Linked DNA regions of Homo sapiens: all the other regions are linked to region 1. The links come from fine-mapping of genetic effects on gene expression. A gene starts in region 1. Each other region holds a variant in brackets. All regions are shown on one strand. Distances are from middle to middle.

Evidence for each region.
Region 2: its variant is fine-mapped to the expression of CCNY-AS1 in tibial nerve (GTEx, PIP 0.92).
Region 3: its variant is fine-mapped to the expression of CCNY-AS1 in lymphoblastoid cells (GEUVADIS, PIP 0.95).
Region 4: its variant is fine-mapped to the expression of CCNY-AS1 in sun-exposed skin (GTEx, PIP 0.92).
Region 5: its variant is fine-mapped to the expression of CCNY-AS1 in whole blood (INTERVAL, PIP above 0.99).
Region 6: its variant is fine-mapped to the expression of CCNY-AS1 in sun-exposed skin (GTEx, PIP 0.98).

Annotation. Positions count from the first base shown.
Region 1 is chr10:35,334,238-35,339,237 of GRCh38, reverse strand. It overlaps CCNY-AS1 (CCNY antisense RNA 1), which reads left to right and starts at 2,814. Exons shown (of 4, transcript NR_186477.1): 1 at 2,814-3,018; 2 at 3,162-3,310. CCNY (cyclin Y) reads right to left here and starts at 2,729. Exons shown (of 10, transcript NM_145012.6): 1 at 2,031-2,729. The coding sequence starts at 2,184. RefSeq lists a silencer at 2,364-3,103.
Region 2 is chr10:35,531,178-35,536,177 of GRCh38, reverse strand. All of the region lies in intron 7 of CCNY (cyclin Y), which reads right to left. Among named protein-coding and RNA genes, the nearest start is that of GJD4, 72 kb to the left of the region's middle. RefSeq lists an enhancer at 4,503-5,000. The variant C/T (reference allele first, on the strand shown) is at 2,326.
Region 3 is chr10:35,379,905-35,384,904 of GRCh38, reverse strand. All of the region lies in intron 1 of CCNY (cyclin Y), which reads right to left. Among named protein-coding and RNA genes, the nearest start is that of CCNY, 46 kb to the right of the region's middle. The variant G/A (reference allele first, on the strand shown) is at 2,682.
Region 4 is chr10:35,439,703-35,444,702 of GRCh38, reverse strand. The region is part of intron 1 of CCNY (cyclin Y); the gene reads right to left. LOC124902410 (a long non-coding RNA gene) reads left to right here. Exons shown (of 2, transcript XR_007062112.1): 1 at 1-953; 2 at 1,108-1,292. Among named protein-coding and RNA genes, the nearest start is that of CCNY, 110 kb to the right of the region's middle. The variant C/T (reference allele first, on the strand shown) is at 2,742.
Region 5 is chr10:35,431,547-35,436,546 of GRCh38, reverse strand. The region is part of intron 1 of CCNY (cyclin Y); the gene reads right to left. Among named protein-coding and RNA genes, the nearest start is that of CCNY, 98 kb to the right of the region's middle. RefSeq lists a silencer at 2,643-2,712. The variant A/G (reference allele first, on the strand shown) is at 2,046.
Region 6 is chr10:35,458,899-35,463,898 of GRCh38, reverse strand. The region is part of intron 1 of CCNY (cyclin Y); the gene reads right to left. Among named protein-coding and RNA genes, the nearest start is that of CCNY, 120 kb to the right of the region's middle. RefSeq lists enhancers at 1-217, 642-1,184, 1,185-1,729. The variant T/G (reference allele first, on the strand shown) is at 2,453.

The DNA.
Region 1 (5,000 bases):
TCTGGTTTAACTGAAACCAATGTTGAGAACTGCTGGCTGGGTCAATGCTAGAAGTATTATTTATTGAATTTGAGAGACAGAAGGTGAATTAATATTTCGGGGTTTAAACTAGCATAATCATATGAACTGGGATCTGGGATGAGAGGGCACTCCACAGCCTAGATTGGAAACCTGCCCTATACTCTCTCAAACTATCCTGAATCTGCAAAAGAGTCTTCCAAACATTCTCTCAAAAATTCCTGATGACTGAAACTTAAGATTTCTTTGAAATGAAAGAACACACAATATCATTTCACTGTACTCTGGCAAAATTGTACTGAGCCTTAGTGCCAAATACCTGGTTACACTTATTTTTTCCACCTTATTTCCTTACAATAGTCTATAATAACTGTATGCAGCCTGGCTCTAAGAAATGTAAATCTTCTTTTTTTTCTTTTTTGATCCATCATTCAAAACAAAGCCTCCGCTAGATACTGCACAACATAAAAAGGAAATTTACTGCACATCATAAAGAAGACATTATTTCCAAATGTTTTCGCCTGTCAACATAGTATAGGACTGGGTAATGGCTTTCTGTAATAAACTCATTCATTTATTCCTCCCTTTAAAGTACAATACTTACTGTTTATTATATGCTAGACTTTTCTTTCAGGTGCTAGAGGCTGTGAAAGTGATCAAGACCGATCTGGCCTTCATCCTTCTAGATGCCTTTAAATGCATAAATTTAAGAAGAAAGTATGGCTGTAGTTCAAAGACATCTAAGCGTATGTTTAAAATAATGGAAATCTAAAATAACAACACTAGACACGTCATATGGAACCATAATTTACTAAGCGCGTACTAGAAACCAGACGTTGTGTTACTCCCTTTATACATGGCACTCATTTAATAAAGATGCTCTCCTAAAAAGATTAAACTACCATTTAGAAGAAATTACACGAAGACAAACGAGAAAAATCTTTCCTTTAGCAAAGTTTAAATGTGGCCTTTCCACAGTGGAGAGAATCTTCCATCCTAAAGTGGACAGGAACGAATTATGAAGTTGTGTTCATTCATTCACACAAAAATTTCTTCATATTAGTTCAACCAGATTAACTATGAGAAGATGTTTGGGTTAAAAAAATCACCTTGTCATAAAAAGATACTTCCAATTTCAAATCTTTTCAGTTGAAAATTCTATAAACTATATTTTAAGCATGATGCATAAATATCCCTCTGTCGTTATCACTGAGCAACAGTGCTAATAAATATGTTGCCAAACCAATAAAATAAATAAAACATTACTGCGTGCAGTAATTAGTCTTAGCTTTTTTTCTTTTTGCAAACTCCAGACCAACCAAAAGTCACCTGAATAAATCAGAAATTCATAGGACTGCAATTCGGGCCCATGCAAAAACTGAGACTTAACCCAAAGGTGTCTGACAATCTTTTAAAGAGCATTCTCGGGAGAAGCTATTTGACTAATCCTGGAACCGCCACTCAAAAAAATCATTTTTTAAAAAAAACGGTAGAATGGGAACGGGGGAAGTGGAGTCCATTTGTAAGGTTCCGGGGAACTGACTCAACATGGTTCTCCAACTCGAGGTTGGAGACACCGGGATTCCAAAATGGGAATCCACTCACTTCGCTTTTATAGGACAAACGCGTGCACAACTTGGCTTCGGGCTGCATTCAGGTAGTGCCGGGAACCCCGAGCTCCCGGGCCGCCCCCACCCAGCTCTGGCCGCTCCATTAAGGACGAGGGCCGGCTCCTGTCACCTCGCGACCCACGCGCACACACCCGCCCTAGGCCCGCCGTGCTCGATGCCGCGGGCCTGCAAAGTTTCCGCGGCCGCTCACTTGGGGGTAACCAGCGAGGGGTACGCCCAGAGGCTGCGGGGCCCCGGGCGCCTAGGCTGCGCGGGCGAAGCCCCGGTTATGCACGGGTCGCCGAGACCGGCTGGGCAAGCAAGAGCAGCCGGGCCGCCCCGACGTTGGCTGTGCGACTGTTGCCGCGGGGGCGGGTAGGGGGCTCGGCGGGCCGCACTCACCGTCTATGTTCTCCCGGTCGCTGATGTGCTGCAGGTTGCAGCCCGTGTCCTCGCGGCTCAGGTCCGTGTCTGGCCGGTAGGACTCCAGCCGGGAGTGGGCATTCCTCCGGAGCTTGGGACTGGACGACACGCAGCACGAGGTAGTGTTCCCCATCTTCGGCGGCCCCCCGACTCCTGCTGCTATCCTGTTCTCCCAGTCCCCGGGAGCGGGGCGCGGGTGGACGCGGGGCGCGGGCGGCGGGGGCGTGTGGGGAGGCCCGCCCGCTCGCCGCCACGGGAGGGGGCGGAACGGCGGCCGGCCGCCGGGTCAGCAGCGGCGGCGGCGGCGGGGCCTCGCCATGGGCGGCGGCGGCGGCGGCGGCGACGAGCGGGCGACGGCCCCGGCTCCCCCTCGGCCGGCCTATCCGCGGCGGAGGAGCGCTCGGGTCCGCGCGACTGCGGCCGCCGCGCCTACCTCACCCCGCCGCGGCCATGGCGGGCGGCGCCGCGCAGGCCGCCTCCCCCCCGCGCTTCCCCAGTTGGTGTCCGCTTCCCCGGCGGCTGCGGCGACGGCGGCCGCCTCGGCAAGAGGTTCCGGTTCAAGCCGGGGGCACGCGTGTCCGCGCCGGACGGCGGGACTAGCCGACGAGCGGGCGGGCAGCGGGCGTGGGCGCAGCCCCCGGACTCCTCGCGGCGCGGTGCGGCGCGGCCAGGGAGGATGCTGGCGGCCCTCCCTCGCCAGCGGCGCCCGCCCTCGCCGCAGCCCCCGCCCCGCCCCGTCACCGCCCCTTCCCTCTGCCCTGGAAGCAGATCGGCGGCCGCGGGGAGGTTCGGGGCGGCGCAGCCCCGCGCGGTTGTGGGATCGCTCCCGGGGGCCGCTCCTCTCTCGGGCACTGGGGTCGCGGGAGACGTCGTCGGGAGCTCGGTTTCTGGAGGCCCTTCCCCACCCGGCCTCTGCCTCCTCCACTCCCCCGGGCTGGACGGAACGGGGCCCAGCGCGGGATGCGAGGTGCGTCCCCGGGGCCCGCAGCGGGCGGGAGCGCAGCCAGGGCCCGGTCGGGGACGCAGGCCCAGGGCGCTGAGGCTGCACCTGCCTCTCCGAAACCGGGCTGGCTCTTTTTGTCTTTTTATTTTTCTAATTTATTTTTTTAGAGGTATGATTTCGCTCTGTCGCCCAGGCTGGAGGGCAGTGGCGCAATCTCGGCTCACTGCAGCCTCGAACTCCTAGGCTGAAGCGATTCTCCCGCCTCAGCCTCCAAAGTAGCCGGTACTACAGGCGCGCGCCACCACGCCTGGCTAAGGTGTGTGTGTGTGTGTGTGTGTGTGTGTCTCCAAAGTAGCGAGGACTACGGGTGTGTGTGTGTGTGTGTGTCTCCAAAGTAGCGAGGACTACAGGCTCCCGCCACTACGCCAGGCTAAGGTAGGGTGTGTATGTGTGTTAACTTTTTGTAGAGATGGGATCTCCCTTTGTAACACGGGCGCCCGCCACTAAGCCAGGCTAAGGTGGTGAATGTGTGTGTGTGTGTGTGTTAACTTTTTGTAGAGATGGGATCTCGCTTCGTAACCCGGGCTGGTATCGAACTCCTGTCTTCAAGGAATCCTCCCGTCTGGACTCCTCCCATGGGATTACGGGCATGAGCCACGGCACCTGGCTATTTTTTTTTTCTAAGCATTTAAATAAGCTGGGGCTTGATTTGGGAGTTTTCTATTGTATTTTGAGCTTTGCCGAGGACTTGATAGTGACCTTGCTTTAAGCTGTGAAATAAATCTTGGGGTCCCAGAGCTATTTTAATATTGAATTCGCTGTGGAGTTGTTTTGAGTTCCTTGGAGGTTAACATGAGATAGAAAACTAAGTTAACACAACTCATCGACTGCCCTTGCTTTGCTTTGCTTTGCTTTTAGAATGCCATCGGGTTTTGTCATGTTGGGAACAAGTTAACTTAGGCCAGTTGACTAAGATCAAGGTATGTGAACATGCCTGGCTGGGAGAGAAGTAGAGTAAATGTTGGTTCGCATTCCCTCCCGACGCCCACAATGCCAGCCATCCCTGACTTTTCTTGCCTTTATTGGGAAGAATATAAGGTGGCAGAAACAAACTTCCCACCCTTTTTCCAAATATTTACTGAAGGAGTCTTGAGGAGAGTCTTGTGGGGTGGGGGGGTGGGGGTGGGAGCTGGGAATGTTTTTGAACTAGTTCTTGAAAAAAAAACTAGTACAATAGTACAACTGTCTTAATTTTATATATGAGGAAACTGAGGCCCAGAGATGAAATCATGCCTTGATTTATGCAGACCTCAGTACCTGTTCGTGACAAATCCAGTTACTAAAAGGTAAGAGAAGGAATAAGGGACTTGATATTTATCTAGCATCAGCAATGTGTGGACATCGTGTGAACGGCTTTATAAACATTTCATTTAATTCTCTACATCTAGCCATTTTTTAACCTGTGCTTTCCCTCCCTCTCAAAGTACTGTTTATACATTTATTAGTCCATATTTTAAACGCTCCATGCTCTCAACTGTATTAATGCTATTTGTTAGGATAAGTGGCAGATGTCCATGGAAAATAAGTGGCTGCAAAGTGGTAATGCTGACCAGATGAGAAAAGAAGTGTAAAAGGGAAGTTCTAAAGAATTAAAGCCCTGGAGAGGGTGGGTAGACAACAACAGTCCAAAATAGTGCTCTTCATTGAGGCTGTGTAGATTTTCCTGCTTCCTGGGAAAACTGGGGCATATTTACACTTGCATGTGTGTATTCAGATTGTCTGGGGCTATGGAGTTTGGGTCAGATTGCTGAACCCGTGGGAGAGAAGTTCCCTTGTTGTCTGTTGTTGTCTGTTCTGATTGCTGCTTTGTAATTTGGGCCACATATGAAAGTCAGCATCCAGTCATTGGACCATAGGTGTGTGGCATATCTACTCAGATGCATTAAGCTATTTTTATTTCATTATAAAATGTATAACATTTACATTCAAATTATGGTTTGAAGGGC
Region 2 (5,000 bases), 200 kb before region 1:
ACTTATCCACTACCACAAGAACAGTATGGGGGAAACTGCTGCCATGTTTCAGTTATCTCCCACCAGGTCCCTCCCACAATAATGGGAGTTATGAGACATACAATTCAAGATGAGATTTGGGTGGGGACACAGCCAAACTACATCACAAACTTATACAAATCTTATCACAAACTTATGTTCATAGCAGCAGGATTCATAATAGCCAGAAAGTAGAAACAAGTTAAATGTCCACCAACTGATGAATGAGTAAACAAAATGAAGTGCAGTGACCCTCAGCATCTGTGGAAGGTTGGTTCCAGGGGCCCCTGCAGATACTAAAATGTGAGGATGCTCAAGTCCCTGATATAAAATGGCAGAGCCATTTTCATATAACCTATGCACATCATCTTGTATACTTAAATCATCTCTACATGAGTTATAATACCTAATACAATGTAAACGCTAGGTAAATTGTGGTTATACTGTTTTGTTTAGGGAATAATGACAAGAAGAAAATTCTGTACATGTTCAGCACAGATGCAACCATCACAGGCCTAACCACATTTTCATTTTACAGTTGGCTGAATCTTCAGGTGCAAAGCCCTTGTACAAGGAGGGCCAACACTCACTCTGTCTCTCATACATATACGTATATGTATACATATACGTATACATACACATATACATACACATATAGGGAGAGAGACAGAGAGAGCCAAAAGCCTGTGGGTTGTGACCAACTCAGCATTCCACTGGAGGCTATATGATCAAACAGCAAACTGTTTATCATGAATGCAGGATGTGGGCAAACTCACAACTGCACCTGCCACCAGAAGGTTTGTTGAGTGTAATCACTCCCTGGTGCCGTGCTCCTTGAGGTTATCTACTGGAACATCTAGAGACTACTGTTCAGAGAATGCAGCTGTGCAGGCCTGCTCTAAGTCAAGCAGCTGACTGACAACCACCCCCTTCTCTGTATCTCCTTTACTCAATAAATACGAAGGGCTATAGAAGCTCTGGGCCCTTGTTCACTAAAAGCAAGGAGCCCCCTGACCCCTTCTTCCAAATACATTCTTTTGTCTTTGTCTTTATTCTCACGTTCATCCTCCTTTGTTCACTCCAACAGGGATTAGGGCTGCAGCATATATATAGATCTATATATACATACACACACACACACACACACACACACACACACATATATATAGATCTATATATATATATGTGTGTGTGTGTGTGTGTGTATGTATCCCCACTCAATGGAATATTATTTGCAATAAAAAAGGACATACTATACATGCTACAACATGGATGAATCCCAAAAACATATGCTAAGTAAAAGAAGCCAATCATGAACTATCATATGAGATACTATTGATATGAAATGTTCAGAATAGGCAAATGACATAGAAATTTGATTAGTGGTTTCCTGGGCCTGGGTGGAGGCTAAGAACGAGGAGTGAATGCCAAAGGGTAAGGGGTTTCTCTATGGGGTGAAGGGAATATTCTGAAATTAGGTTGTAGTGATGGTTGTACAATGTACTAAAACCCACTAAAATGCTCACTTTAAATGGCTGAATTGTATGGTATATAAAATATGTCCCAATAAAGCTATTAAAAAATAGGAAATAAAGAAAGGGACCACACCCCCTCCTGTCTGGTCAGCTGTCACTTTGCCACCTCGATCTCTTCTTGGTTCCCCTTCCCTTATGCCGGAATCCCTCCATCAATCACCAACTTCCTCTCTTTCTCCCTCTCCCATTGCTGTGGCTCTACAGACAGAACTAACCTCACACGGAATGCTCAATCAAGGTTCAGTTGAGTGATGTCCCCGAAGTTGACGAGTTTTTTTCTGTCCCTTCAGAAAGCTTAAGCAGGGCTGGGTGTGGTGGCGCACGCCTGTAATCCCAGAACTTTGGGAGGCTGAGGTGGGCAGATCACTTGAGGTCAGGAGTGACCAGCCTGGCCAACATGGTGAAACCCCCTTCTCTACTAAAAATTCAAGAAAAATTAGCAGGGCATGGTGGCGCAAGCCTGTAATCCCAGCTACTCAGAAGGCTGAGGCAGGAGAATCGTTTGAAACTGGGAGGTGCAGGGTGCAGTGAGCTGAGATTGTGCCACTGTACTCCAGCCTGAGCAACAAAGTGAGACTCCATCTCAAAAAAAAAAAAAAAGTTAAGCAATGAAATGAAATGTGTCAATGTTCTAAAACTACTGGGGCAGGGGAAGATAATAAATAGGTATTAAATGATCCTTATGTTTCAGGCACATCACCACCATGTACTTCAGCCAGTAGGCAGTTATTACTGTGCTCACTACATGTTCAACAAATACTTACTGAGCATT[C/T]ATTATGAGCTGGGCTGTGTTCCAGATGTTGGTCGTATTGTAGTAAACCACATGGACAAAAAGACCAGACATTTCTTACGCATGGGGCTTACTGACAAAACAATAAAATTAATGACTTCAACCTAAAGCATGCTGACAGGTGATAAGCAAGTGGAGAAAAAGCAGGAAGTGATGAGCAGGGAGTGCGGTGCAGGAGGGAGGTTGCAACTTCAGATATGGTGGCCAGGCAACAGCCCCCTGATGTGCCCTTTGAGCAAAGATGGGGAGGAGGAGGGCAGGACGCATCTCAAACACACCTGGGACAGAGGGAGCTGGGTGCCAAGGGGTGGAGGAAGTCCTGAGGTGCAGAAGTCCCGAGGCAGGTGTGTGTCCGGTACATCCAGGGAACAGAGCAGCTGCAGCATGACACTGAGGAGAGTGGAGGCAGCTGGGCAGAGATGGGAGGCTTAATCTTGCTAGGCCCCGTCAGTAACATAAGGGCTTTGTGTTTTCCTTTGAGGAAGATGGGAACCACCACAGGTTCTGAACAGAGGAGCGTGCAAAGTGAGAAAAAAAAGAGCAGGACCAAGCTCCTTCAACTCTGGGTCATGACTGATTTTTCTACAGATGAACATCTGACCCCAAAGGAACTGGGGCCAGTCAAAATCTCCCCTCTCCAAAACTGAAAGAGGAGACTGGGTTAGAGGGTGTGCGGCCTTAAACGGAGAGGTGATGAAGGGTGGGGAAAGCTATTAATACTGTCCTGCCACATCCCATCCGAAGCAAGAAAGCCGACCTGCACATTAAGGCCCCAGAGCCACAGCAGTGCGCAAAGGTGAGAGAAGCAGCCCAAAGGAAGAGAAACCTGCAGTGGGCCTCATTCTACAGCCTGATGTCCTTCCAGACCTACAGGACAAGGGATATGCGAGACCTGCCTGGACCTTCCAATATATCTCCTTCTGCCTTGGCCTCTGGCTTTCTCATCCTTCCAACAGAAGATCCCAGTTCAGACAGGCAATGAGCTTTTCATGTTGTCGAAGTACCGCATAGGACTAAAGTGGGTGCCATGCATGGTTCTCAGGATCAGTCAGCTTGGGTGACTCCTGAGGGAAGGGAAGGGCCTCGTGGAGGGGCAGCTGGATGCCAAGGCCTTTCTGCCCACTTCACTGCAGGCCTGGCTTCCTCCAGCTGCTGCAGGTACACCACAAAGGCCTCTACATAACTCATCAAGGTGCAAATCAATTACCTCACTCCCTTTCAAATTTCCTCATGTGGCAGTATCCATAGGAGAGCTTTCAGCATATTCTAGGAGGCTAAAAAATACACTTAGTGATCTAAGTTATTGTTACTCTTTTAAAAGGAAGTTGATTAAGCTGTGAAATATTTGCTTTGGGTGAAGTAGGTTTGGGTGTTTGAAGGGCCTGTAGGCTCTCTGTCCACAGCAGGCTGCAGTCCTACTCCGTGTGGGAAGCACGGCCAGGGCTAACTGCTCTTCCTCCTCCATTGCCTGCTGAGCAGCATGCCAAGATGCCAAACACATGCCCAGTGAAAATAAGGGCTTAATGAATGCATCTCTGTCAACTCCAGGCCAGACTTGTCCTGAATGACTGTTTCTAACTCTAGGGAACACGAGGAGGGAAGAACAATCCTACAAGAGTCTTGCTCAAGGCACACGTCTCTGTGCCCTCTACCCACAAGCATGCAGCTGCGCTGATGAGCCTCAGCAGACAGCAGAGACCAGAGGATGGGCTGCAGGGCTGCACCTACCACGAAGGCCTCCAAGGCTGCTCCTCTCCAGCTGCAACCAACAAGACCCCCATACAAACTGGTATCCTGGTCAACACCAGTCTATTTCATAGGACAAATGAAGATTTCAATAGTTACAATTATTCACAAGAAAAGTGCCAGTCCTACACTACTCCAAAGAAATGAACTCATCAGCCCTGTCACCTTTGGTGAGTGATGCAGAGGGCAGCAAGGGATGCCTGTTAGATGTTCTCTCAAGGCAGACACTGGGTGAGCTGTGGGGTTTAAATGCTGGCCCTGAACATCCTTCAAGCTAAATAATAATCCCGACCAGGAAGGCACTATCTTTCACAGCCAGGCCATATTTTTCTTAGGAATTAAAGGTAGAAAAAATCCCCGCCACTTTCCATCTACAGCAACTTCAAAATAAATCCTTCCTCATGGCATGTATTCCAGTACTAATTTCATCTATGGTTTCATCTGCTTTTCTTAATCTTCTTTTCCCTTCACTGAATTTCCCTACATAAAAATCTCAACCCTGTTGCCCTGTTGCGTGTTTTGGTTAGAACTTAAAATCCCTTTGAGGAACAAAGCTGGGCAGTACATACATTACTCAATTATGACATAGGAACCTGCAATCATTCCTAATCATCTAATGATTACTTGATTGTCTGTTCTATTATCCTTCAGGCTGTGAGTTCAATGAGAAGGAATGAACAAACAGATGAACAGATGAATGAATGAGCAACAAGCCAACAGGGTTTCTGTTCAGTTAGCCTCGGAGCACACAGCTCTTCATGTGGCGGAGACACAAAGAGTCCTTCGGTCGCCTGTAAAGCTTCTACTAGACAATTGTCTCTTCTCAGAAACTACAGGAAATGGTATTCTGATCTCCAGGATAGCTCATGCACAGGCAAAGCTAATTTCTCATCTAAGTTATACACAATGTA
Region 3 (5,000 bases), 46 kb before region 1:
CCATGGCAGAAATTAGATAATCCCACCAAGGCATCAATTGAGGAGCCAACAGAATTCTCAGACGGCAGGCCTGCTGTCTCGGAAGCCCACGGAAGCAATTTGTGAGGAAAGCTCTTCCCACAAACCTAAACTGAAAGGGTCCCAGGGGCACCTTGTCCCTGGGGGAGAAGGACAGGCAAACTATGTGCCCAGGACTGGCCTGGAGTCATCTCCACACATGAGTGTATAGACCCAGATGGACTCACCCTATGTGAGTCGTGATGTGTACCCACCCCGCCCCTCCACTGCAGGGCCACTCGAAAGCCAAGTAGCTGTGAAAGGAAAACAAAAACTTGGGACTCCAATTCAATATGTCAAAAGGAGAAATATTAAGCTGAAAGCTAAGTCATGCAAGATGCTGCCTTTCCTTTTGTTCCTACGTAGATAGCTACTGATAAAACGTTAAGTATCTCCACAGGCGGCTACTCTATGTTCACCTTATCTAGGTAAAGTGTTGATTTACTGAGTTCCAGAGGAATACGTAACTGACTATTCCCCTACCTGCTCCTTTTCTCTTGCAACATGTGGATTCAGTAATACCCTACCCTCTTTCCCCTTCAGCCTGCTTTTCCCCTTTGAATACTAATGCCCTCAAAATCATCTTTGGAGAAAAGCACAGACTATAAACTGCTTGTGTGATGCCATGTTTTTTTTAATCCCCGTCATTGTCCTTAATCTTAGCAAAATAAACTTCTAAACTGATTGCGACCTGTCTCAAATACTTTTGGGTTTATATAGCTATTCTGCTAAAATATGAAGGGGAAGGAAACCCTCCTTTAATCAGAATTTATGGTGAGGGAGTTGTAATTGTTTCCCAGTGTGCTGTCTGTGAAACATCATCAGAAAATGTGTTTAACAGAACATTTCATAGTTAAGTTTAGGAAATGTTACTTAATATATATATATATATATTCTTACTCTCATTCCCCACAATGCATAATACAATTTACCATTGACCATATAAAGTGCTTAGAGTAGTGCAGGAAAGAAACCTGCTTTACTCTAAGCCAGGTTTTTCCCAATCTTAGTTGATAAATCTTTTTTCTACCTAAAAGTACTGTCCCCAATCTAGCTTGATCTTAAAAATCATCTAGGACTATTATGTTAAAACAAGATTCCCCGATCCCTTTATCAAAAACTTTAAGGGAGGGGTCAGGTAGCTTAACAGGCACATGAGGTGACACAATCAGAACAGTTGAGAAAATATTGATAAGCTAACATTTGGCCAGAAATACTTTCTTCTTTTGAAAATGTTTCAGGCCAGGCACGAGGGCTCATGCCTGTAATCCCAACACTTTGGGAGGCCAAGGTGGGCAGATCACCTGCGGTCAGGAGTTTGAGACCAGCCTGGCCAATATGGTGAAACTCTGTCTCTACTGAAAATACAAAAATTAGCTGAGCGTGGTGGCGGATGCCTGTAATCCCAGCTACTCGGGAGGCTGGGGCAGGAGAACTGCTTGAACCTGGGAGGCAAAGGTTGCAGTGAGCCGAGATTGTGCCACTGCACTCCAGCCTGGGCAACAGAGCAAAACACCATCTTAAAAAAAAAAAAAGAAAAGAAAATGTTTCTAAAAGTTTCTAGTTCAATTTCCTACTTTACTAAGTTTCATACGCTGAATATTGATTCAACGTCATTATTCTAAGCACTGTTATCCATTTACAGTCACCCCTAGGTCATCTGCAGGTGACTGGTATTTGGACAAACACCAAAATCTGTGCATGCTCAAGTCTCCCCATCGGAGCTGTAGAACCCACAGATACAGAAAAAGGCAGTTCTTGGTCACGCAGGTTTTGCATCCCGAAATATTGCGTTTTCGATCCATGTTCAATTGAAAACAATCCACATATAAGTGGACTAATGTGGCTCAGACCCAAGGTGTTCAGGGTCAGCTGTGTAGTACTAAGGGTACACAGAGTGTAGTATGGTTGACTCTCTACTGGTCATGAGTATATCACAGCAGCAGTTTGTTTGTTTGTTTTTTACCTTTTGGATTTTATTTTCACTAAGTTAATCATAATAATAACAACAATTATAATTACTGAGCTCTTAAATGTACTGTCTCCCATAGTTTTCACAACAACCTTATGAGAAAAGTACTGCTGTTATTTTTCCCATTTTGAGGAAATGAAGAAGCCGGCCATGCAAGTTTAAGTAACTTGCCCTAAGTCAGTGTCTCAAGCTCAGCACTACTGGACAACTGGGCCCGGTAATTCTTTACTGGAGGGGTAGAGGGGCTGTCCTGTGTACCACAGGACAGTTAGCAGGAGTCATGTCTTTACCCACAAGATGCCAATAGCAGCCCCCATCCAGTGGTGATAACTAAAATGTCTCCAGACCTTGCCAAATGTGCCCTGGGGGCAAAATCAATGGAGAAGCACTGTTCTAAGTGATGCTGGAGATGAGAGTCAAGAAGCCAGGGTTCTGGCTGAGGTCTTACCACTGCAAAGGCGCCACGGCCCCCTCCCAAGAGAAGGCATCAAGCCCCCTTTGCATGCTCCAAGCAAAGGAGCCGGCAGGAGCTCTTGCCTCTGTCGCACACACAGTCTGTCAGCACTGCAGACAGGCCTGAAGCTTGACAAATATCAAAGTGAGACAAAGCTGTACCAAGTGCCAGCAATTTCAGACACAGAGTAATCCTTCA[G/A]TACAAGTAATGCCCTGTGTAACTTTCTTCCTATCCTAACGGTTCCAGTTGCACATATGAAAGATTCTCAATCTCCTCACTTAAAAACGAATCACAGAAAAAGCCTTCGCCTACAACGGCATATCTAACACATTAGACACCCAGGAAGGAATATTTTTTAACACACCCTCCATGTATGAAAAAAATTATTTTCAGTAATAGTTATGTAAAAATCAGTAACTATTATTTTCTTGATTTGTTCTTTAGTTTTAAAACAACTGTCTTAAATGTGATAAGTTTTAATTTTACAGATATTATTTTTGCACTTACCAAGCAAAAATATTACACCTCATGGTTTGCATTCTGTTTCACTGTTGTAATTTTTAAGGACTCTTGGACAAAAACTCCAAGTGATCAAACAGAGTGACAATTATAGTCATCAGTAACACTATCATTTATTTCAAATCTACTGTTTAAAAACAGATATACGTAATACTACAGAGTTAAATACACAAGACTGTCCTAAGCAAGCTTTCTGAACAATTCTAAAGTCTTAAGAAGTTACTCTGGAAATGAATGCAAGCAGCTGAATCCCCATGTGTTTAGGGCTAATCTGACACCAGGAGTGTCAGATTTAACCTCCATGTTGCATACAGTATTTCTTTTTTTTTTTTTTTTTGAGACGGAGTCTCACTCTGTCACCCAGGCTGGAGTGCAATGGCACAATCTCAGCTCACCGCAACCTCCACCTCCCGGGTTCAAGCAATTCTCCTGTCCCAGCCCACCCCCTCCAGTAGCTGGGATTACAGGCACGTGCCACCACATCCAGATAATTTTTTGTATTTTTAGTAGAGACGGGGTTTCACCATGTTGGCCCGGCTGGTCTCAAATTCCTGACCTCAGGTGATCCACCCGCCTCGGCCTCCCAAAGTGCTGGGATTACAGGCATGAGCCATGGCGCTCGGCCTACAGTATCTATTAAAGGCTAAGTACTCAAGAAGTACTCACTTGAAGCTTACGTATCTATTATTAAAACTCAATAAAGCAATTATTTAGAACACCAACAAAAGATTTTGGGGGAAAGAATATCACCGACATTGTTTAGAACTGCAGGCAAAATTCTAGACATTTAGACTTTACAGGCAGACTTCTGGATGCTTTTATTACTGTTATTAAATCCTCCACAGACAATGCACCCCTCATCACCAGCACTGGAGCAGACCACTCCCACCACCCCAGCCTTGGGATGCCGCTGTCTGCCTATCAGAGTTAAAATGGTACTCGGACGCTTCAAGCCCAGAAAGTCAGTTGCAAAAGAATCAAAAGAATAAAGGAAAGAGAAAAGCCACAGAAAATCACAATAAAAGAAACAACGAAGGAGTGAGATCTCTTGGTTCCACTTCTAGCCTGACCTCAGCTGACCGTGTATGTCAGGCAAACTTTAAAACTTCTCCAGGCAGTGCAGCAGAGAGGGTGAAGTCACAGGCGGCTGGCTGCGGACTGGGAGACCCCAGGCAAGGTTCTTAATCTCTCTGGGCCTGTCAGTTTTCTCATCTTCAAGAGAGGAAATATATTTGTATCTAACCCCAAAAGGCTATTGGGAGGTGATAAAAGTAAAGCATGTGAAGTGCTCTATATGTGATAGTTGTACCTGGGCAATATCTTAAAATTACTAAATCTGGGTGAAATATAGAGACTCATCGTACTATTATCTTTAATTCTGTATAGTTTTGAAACTTTCTGAAATAAATGTTTGAAGTTAGTTATTATCAGGTTCCTTAAATACAACACGTAAGAGAAATAATCACCTCCAAGGTCTCTTTGGGCTTTAAAACTCTCTGATACATTCCACACTGGAAGGATAGGATTCCCAGGTGGAAATCAGGAGTGGGAGAGAAAGGGAAAGACATTAGAGAAATAAGCTGTGACCACCAGTCACCTCCTCAAGTAATCACTGCATAATCAATGTTTCACACATAAATGCTTCAATGATTGGACCCTGAGCTGACTCCAAGCATTCATTACAAAATACAAACCAAAATGGGAGCAGCACTTCCAGATCCAAGCCCTCGAGGATCTAAGACTGGTACCTGGCAGCCTCCTTAACCCAGTATCTGTTGGAGTTCAAGTCCTACTCGCTTCCAAAACAACATCTTCCAAGTGTAACCTAACCAATATCTGGGACAGTGTTCCAAGTCCAAACGTTCGAAACACAAAGTAGTCCTCCCATACAAACTGTTGACTAGTTCACATTTTTTTACTGCGCTGAGTGGAATGCTTCATATGACAGCCTGGGACTGATGAGTACTAAAATTCCTGGAGATGACAGCTATGTTTCTC
Region 4 (5,000 bases), 110 kb before region 1:
CAGACTGCATCAATGACAGTAGTCCCTTGAGCTTATGATGGAGCTGAAAAACTGCTATCACCTAGTGACATCATAATGTAGTGCAACACATCACTCCTGTGTTTGTGATGATGCTGGTGTAAACAAACCTACTGTGCTGCCAGTCAAACAGTTATAGCCAGACACAGTGGCTCACAACTGTAATCCCAGAACTTTGGGAAGCCAAGATGGGTGGATCACTTGAGGTCAGGAGTTCAACACCAGCCAGACCAACATGGTGAAACCCCTTATCTACTCAAAATACAAAAATTAGCTGGGCGTGATGGCGCACACCCATAATCCCAGCTACTTGGGAGGCTGAGGCAGGAGAATAGCTTGAACCCGGGGGGCAGAGGTTGCAGTGAGCCAAGATCACGCACTGCACTCCAGCCTGGATGGCAGAGCAAGACTCCGTCTCCAAAAAAAAAAAAAAAAGCCAAAAAACAGTTAACTGTGAAACAGCCTCAGGCAGGGCCTGCAGGAGGTACCAGAAGAAGGCCTTGCTATCATGGGAGATAACAGCTCCATGAGTGCTGTCACCTCTAAAGCCCTTCAAGTGTGTTGGAAATGGGTATTCAATGTCGCAGAAATCAACCCTAAGACAAAGGATCTCTCAGCAAGGCTAATTTACTTTCTGCAGAAAGGGTGCTACTCGCTAGCAGTTTTGCCAGAGAGCACACACAAAAGAGACAGGGTCATTTATAGTCTGACACGTCCACCCTATGGCTGTGTCCAGTTTCCATTGGCTGGAATGGGACCTCACATTCTGTACTTGTCCTGATTGGCTAGCAACTTAGAACATCCCAAAAGAGACATACATAGAGGAGAACAAAGGAAAGGAGGAAGTAACTTGTGGAATGCTGAGAAAGGCAAAAACACCTCCAAATAAGGAAGAGGAACAGGCTATGACCTAATGCTTTCTTGGGCCTGTACAGGTATGCCAGGGGAAATATCTAGCCTAAAAGATGGGGGCTAAGAACACAAAGTATATTCCTTTCTTTATTACGGCTAGCAGATATTTAAGAATATTAGCACAGGTCTTTGAGTAAATTTTGCTTCTAAGAGAGGCTACTATTTATTCCCAATTAGACTGCGAGGAAAGTCCCTTTGAAGAGGAACCTCTACTTCATTTTCTACAGAGTGGGACAGAGGTGCTGGTGGAAGACAGTGATATTGATGATCCTGACCCTGTGTAGGCCTGGCTAATGTGTGTGTTTGTGTCTTGTTTTTAACAAAAAAGTTTAAAAAGACAATAAAAATTTTAAACCAGAAAACAGCATACAGAGTATGGATATAAAGAAAAAAATATTTCTGTACAGCTATCCAATGTGTTTGTGTTATAACTGTTATTTCAAAAGTCAAAAAGTTTTAAAAATTTAAAGTTTATAAAGTAAAAATGTTACAGCAAGCTAAGATTAATTTATTAGTGAAGAAAAATATTTTGTATCAGTTTAGTGTGGCCTAGGTGTACACTGTTTGCAAAGTCTCTGGTAGTATACACAAATGTTCTAGGCCTTCAGAGTCACTCTCCACCCACTTGCTAACTCACCCAGAGCAACTTCCAGTCCTACAAGCTCCATTCATGGAGATGGTAAACAGGCATACTATTTTTTATCTTCTATACCGTATTGTTACTGTACCTTTTCCATGTTTAGGGATGTTTAGATATACAAGTTCTTAACCACTGTGTTCAAATTACCTAAAGTATTCAGTCCAGTCAGATGCTGTACAAGTTTGTAGCCTAGGAGCAACAGGCTATACTATGCAGCCTACATGTGTAGTAGGTTAGACCATCTAGATTTGTGGGTAAGTACACTCTCTCATGTTCACACAATGACGAAATCACTTAATGAGACATTTCTCAGAAAGCACTTCTTAGAACATACCACCTTCATTAAGTGACACGACTGTATATGAAATAAAGGGAGAAAATAACACAAACCACATCAATAGCCCGTCCCGTAGCCATCCCCAGTAGTTTCTTTATTCATACTCCCAAATTCATTACTCATACTCTATATGTTCCAAACATGAAAATGTCTTCTACTCACCAAATACATCATGCTGTTTCATATCTCAGTATTTCAAACAGTTTTCCCTTAACTAAAAAGTTCTCATCCTACAAGCAAACTCCTACTTGTTTTTAAAAACTATTTTCAAATATCAAGTCTTGCAGGTAGACCACCCTAAACTCCCAACAAAGTACCTCCTATCCAGGCAATTTGTATGAGTCTCCGGTCTCATTATTTCACTACCTTTCAATTATAAAGCCATCTCTCCCACCACACTATGAGCCTGATGCACAGCAGATGGCTAATAAACTGTGAGTTAATTTTATGTCCTTTTAATGACTCACATTGCTTCTGCTTCAAAGTTCTAAGCTTAGCATTCAAGGTTACCTAATTTTCCCTTATTTAGTTCTATTTCTCCAACCACCACCATAAGCCCTTGGAGGGCAACCAGCACTGCCTCAGAGATCTGCATCACTCCAACGCAAACAGGGCCCTACACATCAGGAGTTATGGCAACACTCTGTGGGTCATGCAGGCTAAGTGACATTTCTAGCCAGCCCATGTGTTATACCCAGGTACACTTTCACTATTGCTTTACTAGGACTTTTAAGCTATTATTTAAAATGCAACAATGAATCTAAGTTCTTTCAAATTATGTCATCGTTTTAACTAAAACTATAAATGGGAACTTTTCCTTTCATACAGACTTTA[C/T]AACAATGGGTATTCTCTTAAGTATGATCATTTTAAATCATACAGCCAAATTTGTTTTCCAGAGAAACACATTTTTATTTTACAATTAATACGTAATTAACTTCATTTAATGAAATGAACTTTATTAAAGACATCTACACCTTAAAATAAGATACACCAGCATGAACTCTTATCAAGTTTATGCTAATAACCTACTGCTTTTTCTTTTCTATTTTCATACAGGGCCTCACTCTGTCACCCAGGCTGGAGTGCAGTGGCACAATCTCAGCTCATGCAACCTCCGTCTTCTGGGCTCAAGCAATCCTCCCACCTCAGCTTCCCAAGTAGCTAGGACTACAGGCACACACCACCATCCCTGGCTATTTCCTTTTTTATTTTTAGTTGAGATGAGGTTTCGCCCATGTTGCCCAGGCCAGTCTCGAACTCCTGAGCTCAAGTGATCCTCCCGCCTCGGCCTCGCAGCCACTGCGCCCAGCCTCCTACCGCTTTTTCCATTGAAAAGCCCAATTGCTAAGCTAAAGCATAGTAATAATAGGGCCCTAAAATTAAGAAAACAAGAAACGTACACAATGCAGATACATAGGAAACTCTGTACCACTCTCTAAGGCCACAAACACTTAACATCAGGGAAAGCTCTTATTCATCTTGTCTCTGTTCCTTCCAAAATGAAAGTCATTTCAAAGAAGACTGCTTCTGCTTCTTTGCTAACAACAGTTTAAAGGCCAACTTGTTCTTGGCTTACAATGGTTCCATTCTGCAACATGGTAAAACAAGGCGGTATTCAGAAGAGGCCAAAACACCTGTCAGTGCTACAGACTCTCCCTGACCCTCATACCACATGGGGCCCCATTCTAGCTCCTTATGGGACTCTTCCTTTCCATTTCAGGCAAATGGAGTCTTATAAGTGGTGCTAACAATATAGAATCACTTCTGAATTGGCAATTGTATACTCTCTCTTCTAGAGAAAAACCCAAAGCAATATAATGGAAATAAGAGCACCCATCCTTAACTTCCCAGGTACACTTGTTAAAACAAAATGATGTGTGAAAAGAGATGTCTTAAAATAGCAATGACACGTGAAAATCTAGACTTCTTTCAGCTCAGTTTATGAGTTAAGACTACCTCTCTTGTAGCATAATTAACAAATGTATGTAATGCTTCTCAGAAGTAAAGATAAGCAGGGACTGGAGTCCCACGTGTGCAATTACACTTCATTCTACTTTGGAAACTGCTCTAGGCTCCGTCCTTTCTGCTGCCCAGAATCACTCTTTCTAGGAGCTGATTCTGAAGTTCTCTCCCACAGGTGATCACCACCACAAAGCTGTGCCCCGGACAGGGGTCTAAAACAGCAGAATACGCTGCAGTGAAGAAAACTTGAAGCTTATTCTGAAGACATCTAGCAAAGAGTCAGCACTAGGAGGGGTGGGAAGCAAGGGTCTGGAGGAGGGTAGGCAGATCCAGGCCAGGCTGTTTTCATAAGCAAAGCTGAAATGGAGCAGCCAGGCCTGTTCTCTTACATCTCATCTACGCTTGCCTCTGAGGTTCAACAGCAGAGTTGAGCAGTTCAGAGACCACTTGGCCCTTTCCAGAGAACCTCTGCTAACCTCTGCTCCAGAGTGGCCAGGGACACAAGGACATGAGAAACAGCACAGGGGTGAGTTCCCTGAGTTTCCTTTCTGCCTCACTTATCTCAGATAAAAGCTGAAGAAGGAGACAATCTGCAAACATGAAGGGTACAGACCAAAGAACACCTGCTCTCTCTGTCCAAAGAACAGAAAGGAGCCTGTCTAGCAAGACAGAACATTTTTAGATAATAACCACTCTACTCCACAGGCGCCAAAAACGACTGTGGCTCCAGTCCCATCCACACCAACAAAGGCTGAGTGTGAGGCCTAAACTTTTGCCATTGTGAAGTGGTAATGAGATGCCCCAACACCTCTAGGTCCAAGAAGGCCAAGTAGGGGGCCAGGACTTTCATCCTCCACTGCCAGTAATAACCAGCTCCCTACACTGCTGCACTATCAATGAAAACAACATGGAGAAGTGAGACTCCCACCAACTATAACAAAGAGCCCCAGCCACATCCCCTCAGTGTCAACAGCGGCTAAGTAAAACCTGAACTTCTGTCTCCACCTGGCAGTAACAAGGGAGTGGCCCACCATCCTCTGCCAGAGCAATGCCATAAGTCAACTAAAACAGAAGGTTTAAATAAGATCCAAAATGTCCAGGAGGTTTCAATTAAAAAAAAAAAAAATCACT
Region 5 (5,000 bases), 97 kb before region 1:
GAAACATCATGACCCCCACAACAGCTCTCTCCCTGGAGCAGGGCCCCAAGCTCAGGTGAAACCAGGTCCTACACTGTCAGCCTCCAAAGACTAACTGGAAACCCTTCAACCAACTGCAGGGTAAAGCCAGCAGCAGCAGAAAACCTAACCCCAAGAGCCAGGAGCAAGAGCTTCTGACAAACAGGGAGGGCAGAGGTCACTTTATGCCCAAGATAATCTTTCTAGATACCTGCTGAGGGGTGGGGGACCCATAAGGATCAGCTCACCAGGAAATTGTGAACACTGCATCCCACCACCGCACACACCTTTCTAAAGCCCTGCCTTTCCAAAAGGCGATGTCCAAATCCCTGCTTGGCACTCAGGGTCCCACAAGTCACTCCTGGGCTTCCCTCCTGGCCTTGCCCAGTCCCCATGTCACACTTCCCCATGGCCTGGCTGCTGCTGCTGCCCCACCCCTGCCCAACTCTCCAGCTCCCATGTCTGGGCTTCTCTCTCCACCTGAAACTGTCTCTTGTCCACTATCCAAATTTCATCCCTCTTTCATAACCGAACTTCCTTCCTTTCTGGAACTTCTGCTGACCACCTCCCACCCAGAATTAACTTCCTCCTTCCGAACTACAGGAGGCACTATCCATCGTCACTACTACCATCATAATTAGGAGGAGGAACTTAAACATCTTAGCCATTATCTGTGCCAGATGTTCTCCCATTTAATTCTCACCAATACCTAGCATTTGGTTCCCACAGCAGAGAGGAAGAACCTGAGGCCCAGAGAGATTTAATGAGAGCCTCTGAGCACATGTCCACTGAGTCCTCAACACAAAAGCTTCTGATTGTACCAACAGCTCGCAAGGTCTGTGACTGAAATAGTCTAATATACAAAAGTGTGTAAACAGGTAACCCAGAAAGAACACAGAGCTGTAACGGCAGCTTGACTGTGCCATGTTTTATCTTTAAAATAAAGGTTAAGCATTGTATTGTACAAGACAACGTGTGTGATTATTTTAGTATAGAAATCATCTCTCATATTACTTATCCTCAGGTAGAACCAGTCCTCCACGCAGATGGGCCACACGGGCCTATGAGACAGCCCGATATGACCCACTAGGCCACACTGTTCCCCAAGGGTATGGGGCAGGTTTATTCCACACATTGGGCTTAATCCCTTACAAGGGGCCTTTATGTACATCCTATCTTATTTCAATTTCACAATAAGCCTGTCCATAGGTAGAACAGATAGTTATTTCCATTATCTCACAGACAAGGAAACTGATTACCAGGTAAGTGTAAGTGTCTTACCCTGTAGCTACTGAAGGCCCTGGCAGAGATAGGGACCTGGAGCTTCCAACTCCTAGCCTTAAAATCCATGTTTCCAACCATCCTCTTCTGTTTATTGGCCCTGGATAGACACTCTCCCCAGTCATCTCTCAGACTCATGAAATCCACATGTTGATGCCTCAACTCATTGCCCCAATCCAGGTGCAGCCTCTGCAAGGCAGGGGGGCTTTGGGTTTCCTCATTTGCCTCCTCGCCCCCTGCCTTCTTCACCAGTCCATCATCTCACAGCGCTCAGCACAGATCATTCTGTTCTCTGACATTCTCAAAGTAAAAAGGAGTCGAGAAGCAGGAGATACATTAAGTAGAAAGAAAGTATAAGGGGCACAAAGTGAGGAAAGGGGAGAAAAACAGAAGCAATAAATAACTGAGAGAGCAGAAAAGAGTCTTATCCAAGCAGCAGCCCCAGCTGAGAAGGGCAAATGTGCCTAGACATGGGTCAAAAAATACAGTCATTCTCAGAACTGTGATATGAACAAGGCAAACAGGGGAAGTCATTCTGAAAATACCTACTTATTGGTTTCATTCAAAGCATCCCTCTGAATAAAGAGTGATACTTCCTAAGTGGAAAGGAGAGTCTTGCTCTTAAATGTTTTGTAAAAAGTGTTTGACAAAGGATCACTTAAGGGCAAAATTTACACCAAGAAAAACAGAGTTCAAAATTAAACACTTCCCATTTGAAAACTTTTTTAAATACCATTTGTCAAATA[A/G]TGCAAGTCTCTAAAATCATAAAATCATATATGTGTAGTATTAGTCCCAAAAGTAAGAGCAGGACAAAACTCTCCTGTCCATAGCCAGGCTCTGTCCCTGAGGATGCGCCACTCCACAGTGCGCTCAGCTGGGCACTCCATCAGGGTCATAACGCATTTGTGAGTGGAGAGATTACACAGCCATCACTTTTCCCTGAACCCATCACACCCAAATCCCCATTTCAGACAGAGGGAGACAACATAATTACTCATGGCAATGGGCCAGTCTTTTCCAGACTTACAGCCTTTGTGGGTAAAAACCAAAGCCACAATGAACGTCCACATCTGCATCACATTAGCAATATGGGCCTCATCCGCCTTCATGCTACATGTCACTGGTTTTTAATACCCTAAAGAGAATAAATTAATAGAAGATTATTTTCCAGCAAAGACAATTCACAGGCAGGCTCTTGCTCCCCTTCCCTGTCACTCACAAGTGTGTAAATATGACTGATGAGATTTGTAGCACTTAAGTTCGCATACAAGGAAATACTGCCACTACTAGTCAAATTCCTGTGGTAACATGCATCACTTTCAGAAACAACTATTTCTTAGCCAGGTGCAGTGGCTCACGCCTGTAATCCTAGCACTTTGAGGAGGCCAAGGCAGAAGGATCACCTGAGGTCAGGAGTTCGAGACCAGCCTGGCCAACATGGTGAAACTCTATCTCTACTAAAAATACAAAAAATTAGGCATGGTGGCACGTGCCTGTGGTCCCAGATACTGGGGAGGCTGAGGCAGGAGAACTGCTTGAACCCAGGAGGCGGAGAATGCAGTAAGCCGAGATCGCACCACTGTACTCCAGCCTGGGTGACAAGAGTGAAACTTCATCTCAAAAAACCACTATTTCTTAAGATGGTAGAACCAAGACTAATACATGTATCATACACTAGAAAATCCATGTTTTTATCTTTTTATTTACAATAACTAACATATCTAATTTTTCTACTTTGGAACACTGAACATTATTTTCCACACCTTTTCTTTGATGACTGTTGTGTTATACTATTTGACAAGAACCTGTCAAATAACTACCCTGAAATCTTCTTATGGTACTGAAGGTATGAAAAGAAACCCCAAAATAGAGGTTTTATTAGATAAATAAAAATAAGGCTGAAAAACATTCTAGGACTTGAAAAAAGTAAATTTAAAAGCTGAGAAGAGAGTACAAAGGAAAAATGTATTTTATTTCATTCAAAACGTTTTACAATAGGAGGAGGGAGATAATCAATGAAAAACCCCACCTTAGTTTACAGGTAGTATCTTTTTTATTATTTTTTGTAGAGACAGGGATCTCACTATGTTGCCCAGGCTGGTCTTTAACTCCTGGGTTCAAGGGATCTTCCCACCTCAGCCTCCCAAAGTGCTGGGATTACAGGTATGAGCCACCGTGCCCAGCCTACAGGCAGTATCTTAAAGAGATGTTAACCTCATATGCACATCAAGAATCTGAATGCTCACTCAGCTGGTAAAACCAAGGTGGTAATGCTAATGGCACGTTAGTCTAGTTCAAAATATTTTTTAGTATTCTTAACCACATTCCAGACACATTAAGGATCAAATAAGATGCTGGCAAAAAAGACAGCAAAGGAACACACTGAGCCCTGGGGCACCTTTGCTGTATAATTAAAAGATTTGTTTTGTCTCTTACATTCTAATAATGGATTTTTCCTAGGGAGAACAGAAAAGTTACTTTTCAGAAAACATTTTAATTTCCAAAGTTAACCATAATTAAATTTATGAAACCCAAAATGTGAACTTGTTTTTGTTTTCATATTAAGGAAATTTCAGCTTGTGATCCTAAGCTTTCAGTGGAAGGAACAGATTGTCTCTCTCAATAAGATGGCTGGTGGACAGATATATATGCTCTACCCAACAGCTTATTAGGAAGAAGTACTTAAATATTACAAAATACACAAAAGTATCATACTCTTATACCCAAAGCATAGCACAGTATGTTCAGTTATTAAGTCAAGTGTCATGAAAATTATATGAAGGTCTCACTAAAGTTCAAAGTTTCAGTCAAAGGTAAGCAGTTTGACAGAAATATTGGTCATTTACTTACAAAATCTAGAGAATCCCCATTTATTAGTGCTTACTGAGTATCAGCACTCTTAGGTTCTTTGGTATAATCTCATTTAATCATCTCAACAGTCATCTTAACCACATTAAGAGGTAGCTATCATTATTCTCATTTTACAAATCAAGACACTGAAGTGGAGAGAAATTAAAACACCTTCCCAAAGCAGAACAGCAAGTCACGGAGCCAAGATTCCAACACAGCACTTACAATTCAAATCTAATGATCCTTCCCCTACACTTAGACAATCTGGGTTAGCTTATACTAATAAAAATACGCCACATGAATCAACTATTTAAGTTACTGATATGCAAGATGATTCTCGCACTGACATTCGCTCCATAATATGACCTCCTTATCTTTGCTGGTGCCACTCCTTGACAAGAGAAAATGAACCATAATTTTTCTCAGACACAGAACTGAATACCTTATAAACTTCCATACCAACAAATCCATGATGTCTTTATTTTACAGATGTAAAAACAGAGGATCACAATAGGAGGCTAATCTCTGGTGGTTTAGAGGCTAGGAGAAAAAAACAACAAAAAACTAGGAGGCTAAGTAACCAACCTAAGAAGGCCACACCCTGTGAGTGGTGGAACCGAGGTCTAACGTAGCCTATGAGGCTCCAAGCCTGAGCCTGGGACCCGATGCTTAGGGTGCTTCTTTTTCCCCAACAAAACGAGCATGGCTTTACTGGATTCTGCAGGAAGAACACGTATCAAAACTCTAAAGAATGACAGTTCAGTCAATGAAAACGAAGTTAAAAATACAGCATTCATTTCCAAAGCATTTGACGGACAGATCAGACAGAATTCAAAGGTTAGAGCAATGAC
Region 6 (5,000 bases), 120 kb before region 1:
CAGCTTCTTTGCTGATGATCAGGAAGTAGGTCAATGTCATAAACTTACTTCCCAAATCCAGTTAACAAGTGGTTACTTTCAAGCAAATGATGGTGTAAATTTCAAGCTCTGGAAGTATTTATCATTTGCCTACATCCATAAATTACTGTCAGAGCCTTTGATTTCTTTGCCTCTTCCTTTCTCTCCAAGTTGAGGATGTGCTGCCAAATTTAATAATGAGTTTTAAAACAATTTCCATAAATCTTTTTTTAAAGTTCTGCCTGACAGTTGTTTCCTAAAGTGTTGGTATATGATGTCATTTGTTATCAAATTGTAATCTCTTAGCTTCATTGACTCTTTTTCCTTTTAAACTTGGTGCTTCCAGAGTTTCACTATTTATTACCTTCCACGAGCTTATGCTGCTTTAGAGTTCAGTCACCAAAACATCCTTGACTCTTCCTTCTGTCAGATTCAGTAACTTATATACATATATGCATATACTCTGGATCACCTGAGTTAGCATATTCTACGTCCATTGTTACTGAGGTAACAGATGCTTTCTGAACGTTAACTCTGTGGGTAACCAAGAACACAGGAAGAAACTAATGTTTAGTAAGCATCTACCATGTGCCAGACATGTTTATTTAATCCTCACAGACACTCTCTAAAACAGACATTACTAATCCTATTTTTTAGATGAATAAGGAGAACCAGATAAGGTAAATCATACAAAGTCAGACTCCTAGCACATAGCACAACTATGGTTCCACATCTAGCACATCTGAATGCAGAACCCTAGCTTGAATCCCTCTAGTGAAAGAAGTCACTTCCTTAGAAGCCATGAAGATCAGGAACCTCCATCTGCCAAAAGGCAGTGTCAAGGAGACACACCTTCACTTTCAGTGTACAGAACCTCCATTTACCAGCAGTTTATACTTTCCAAAAGTGCCGCTGCAACCATTTCCCCAAATATCTCTAACTAAGGCCTAACGTAGCTGATACACAATACAATGCTGGGAATGCCAAGATCCCATTGTCCTCTGCTCTGCCTTCCTCACAGCACAGCAGTGCACCCTGCAGAGGCGCTCAATGGAAAGAGCCCTCCTGACAGGGGCACCACCCACACTGAGATCTGGGACACAACTTGTGCAGGCTGTGGGTAGAGGGACGGCTAGTGTTTCTGACCTGGAGTGGTGGGCAGCTTTCCAATCCAGCACCAGCCCCTCTGCTCTGGAATGACCCCTCCACCCGCACACTCTGAGAAGCTGTCACAGAGAGCAGCTGCAGCAGCAGTGAGTGCAAATAAGCAAATAAGACAGGTCCTGGCAGAGAGGTCCTTGCCCTCTGTGTTTCTGAAAGTTCAATCGCTTCCTGTTAGGTTCAGAGTAAGGCTCTTGGTTCCAGCCTCAGCATGGTCTCACTGTCTAGCTAGTTCACCATGGTTTCCTGATTTTCAGAAGAGGATCTTCTCAGATCATAATGGCAAAGCAATACCAGAAGGGTGAGATGAGGGTGAAGATGCAGAGATGCTAAGTGCAGGAAATCTCAAGGAGCAAAATACAGGAGAAAGGGAGCGGATACACTATCCAGTGGCAAGACGGGGTCCTTCTGCCACTGGTGAGCCAGGACTACCGCCATTCCTAAAGAGGCATCAAAACGAGCTCCACCTAACATGGCTGCTTTGAAGAAACACTGTTTCTGTGGATGCAAAGGTGTCACAATGTTACTTTAGTGAAAAACATCAATTTTATTATATTGTGGTAATATTCACATTTAATCATCAAAATTCCTATTTAATCCACTTCCAGAGGTTTATGGCTGACATGTAAAGACTTGATTTTCTAGAGTTAGGATCAAACTCCAGTACTGAATTGAGTGCCTTAGAGTGTGGCCACCATTGAAGCAAATGCCTGGAGATTAGAGGAGCCTGGAATATAACTATATTGAGTGTAAGGAGAGGTGCAAAGAGTGGGATGTGCCGGGAGAAAAAAAAACAGAAAATCCACAGAGAGATTTATTTATGCATTTACGTATGCAGGCTGGACTCAATAACATCAGGGACAAATGAAGATGCTAACACTGAGATACCTCAATAACAAATCAGACATTTCCACTTTCAAACACAAAATCATTCAGTAGACCAAGGGCCCATACTTTGCCATGAATAATACACATAGAAGCCATGAACACTAGAAAAAGGGCAGCAAAAGAGACCTTGGGTTCAAATTTTCATCAAGTGGTCCCAAGTATTCTGAAAAAGATCCCCAAGATGCTGGGGGATGACTCTAAAGAAAGAGTCTTTGCTTGGCCAAGCTTTGGTCGGGTTTCTGAACCTTCTCCTGGGCCCAACTGTGCACTTCCTTATAAACTCCACTTTTAGCAAAGCACCCTGCTAAGTCAGATTAGCAAGAACCCCTGACCCTCGACATCTAATCAAGCTCCTTGTCCTTGATCACCCTCAGGTGATCCTCCC[T/G]GTCTGCCTTCAGCAAGAATCCTGTCAGACTGATTTAGCCAGAATTCTCCTTACTCCTGATGTTTCCTCTTAGTAATTTTCCATTCACTAACCACATCCCTTGCTCCTTGGCCATAAATTCCCACTTGCCCATGCTATATTTAGACTTGAACCTAATCTCTTTCCCCCATCACAAAACCCCATTGCTGCAGTCCCTCTACCTATCGAGATGGTCCTTAGTCAAGTTTGCCTTACTGTGCTTTAACAAGACTCATGGAATAATTTTCTCTTTAACACAACCAAACCTCAGGCACAGGATATGGAAAGTGTCATCCTTCAGATCCCCCACTTGCTTCCATAAACAGGAGACCTTCAGCCAGCCCAGTGGTGGGCCTGGGAGCTGTCCATGCCATCGTCTCCTATTTCAGGCCAGCTGGGTGGATCATCAGCCCCTCCCACCCCTGCCCACTGCTCCCCACTCTTCACATCCCTCCCTCAGTTTATAATAAGTGGATGTCCTAGCCCAACCTCCACATACAAGTTCCTTTGATTACAAATACTGTATCCTGTTCATCTTAGACACAGTACAGTGCTTGGCATGGAGCATCACTTATCATCCATGCTCTATAAATGACTGAGTAACAAATAAAACAAGAGAACCTGGGCTAATGAAAGGAGGAAATAACTGAGTGAGGAGTATTATGATACTGTGCCGTGCCATAGGTACTGTGCTGCCACATTCAGGACACTTTAGAAAACCTTATGCAACAGAATAGATAACACATTAAATATGTTCCACGAACATTTCATGCTGATTATTTCCTCTGAGCTCCTGCTAAAGGTATTTTCTTTTTTCTCTTCCATTTGTTCAAATCATATTTATAATAACAGTAGCTTGATGCTTACTGAATGAATGTTATGTGCCAGGCACTGTATCCAGGCATTTCACCTACATAAATTCCAATTTCCACAAAACCTTGAAACTTCTAATAATTATCCTGTGTGTGTGTGTGTGTACATATACAATTCTTCTTCTTCCAATGTGGCCCAGGGAAGCCAAAAGATTGGACACCCATGGTGTAGATGAATGAAGTGATGCTTCTTCCTAGGTATGATGACACTGTTTCAACAAGGTGGGACCCTGAGGGCCAGGGGGCATCACCACTGTGTTTCTCTTATGCAATGCCTACAGTGAGTTGATTCTCAATAACTAAATAGAGATATACGAGAGAGAGAGATTTTTTAAAAGAGGCTCAGAGATGTTAAAGAACATTACTAAGTTCACACAGCTGCCAAGCGGCAGGGAGACACTAGGTCAGGGATATCAGGGAGCTCTACCTGAAACAAAGGCCATTCTTTCCCATGACACCATGCTACCTCACCAAGGAAGAGATGCTGTTAACATCCCCTGCTATTCCACTAGCATGCAATGGAGGTCTTCACAGCTTTTGTATCTGATTTCCAGGCTATCAGATGTTGTTTTAGGCTGCATTTATATCTACCTCAGCCAGTAATCCTTTTTTTCCCTTCCTTTTAATTAGCAAGGGACTGGAAGATCAGTTAGCTGTACTTGTTAGTCCTGGTATAAAGTACTCCCTCCAAGTATGTATTCCCCCCAAGTACCCAACACAAGGAGAGCCCCAAGCAGGTGCTCATCCAGTGCACATCTGATTAAGTAACAGGTATAATAATTATCTGCCCATTCCTCAACCTCCAGGCAAGTCATGATGGTGCAATGAGAGTATGCTCTACAGGGGCTGAGCTGGTGGAGGAGGTGGAACCCGCTACTACTAACCTAGGAGGAGTTCTGAGAAAACTCTGCATCCCCTACCACATTACTTCCTTTGTTTATACCCCTATAAGACAGGGTCCCACCTTGTCAAAACAGGGTGCAGCCCTGTCAAAACAGTGTCATCATGCCTGGGAAGAAGCGTCACTTCATTAGTCTACACAAGGGATGTCCAATCTTTTGGTTTCCCTGGGCCACAATGGAAGAAAAAGAATTGTCTTGGGCCACACATAAAATACAGTAACACTAACAATAGTTGATGAGCAAAAAACAAAACACAAAATGCAAAAAAAGGTCATAATGTTTCAAGAAAGTTTACAAATTTGTGTTGGGCTGCACTCCTGGGCCACATGCGGCCTGCAGGCTGCAGGCTGGACAAGCTTGGTCTATCTACACCTTTGGAAGAGATTCTGTGGCCTCTCAGACAGCAGCGCTGGCCCGGGAGCCTCTTGACTCTCAGCTCTGCCTCTCACGGTGTATCTGCATCACTCCAGATTCAACTAAGAAATCCCATCTGAACAGATTTCCATCTATTTTTACCCTCTTCTGAACTAAAGCTTCATTTTAATCATCAGTTAAAATAAGCTTTTTTACAAAATATGACGTGGGCTTCCCTCCACATGCTAAGCAGAATTTGTTCTCTTCTCTGTGGCTCAGCCTTGAGGTCCTCAGCTGATAGAAGTAGCTTCTGCTTCTCAGGTTTGGTCTTTCTGTCCCCTGCCTCCCTATCTGCCCCTCACTCTCCCTTCCATTTTCTGCTCTGAATCAACTAAGGGCTGA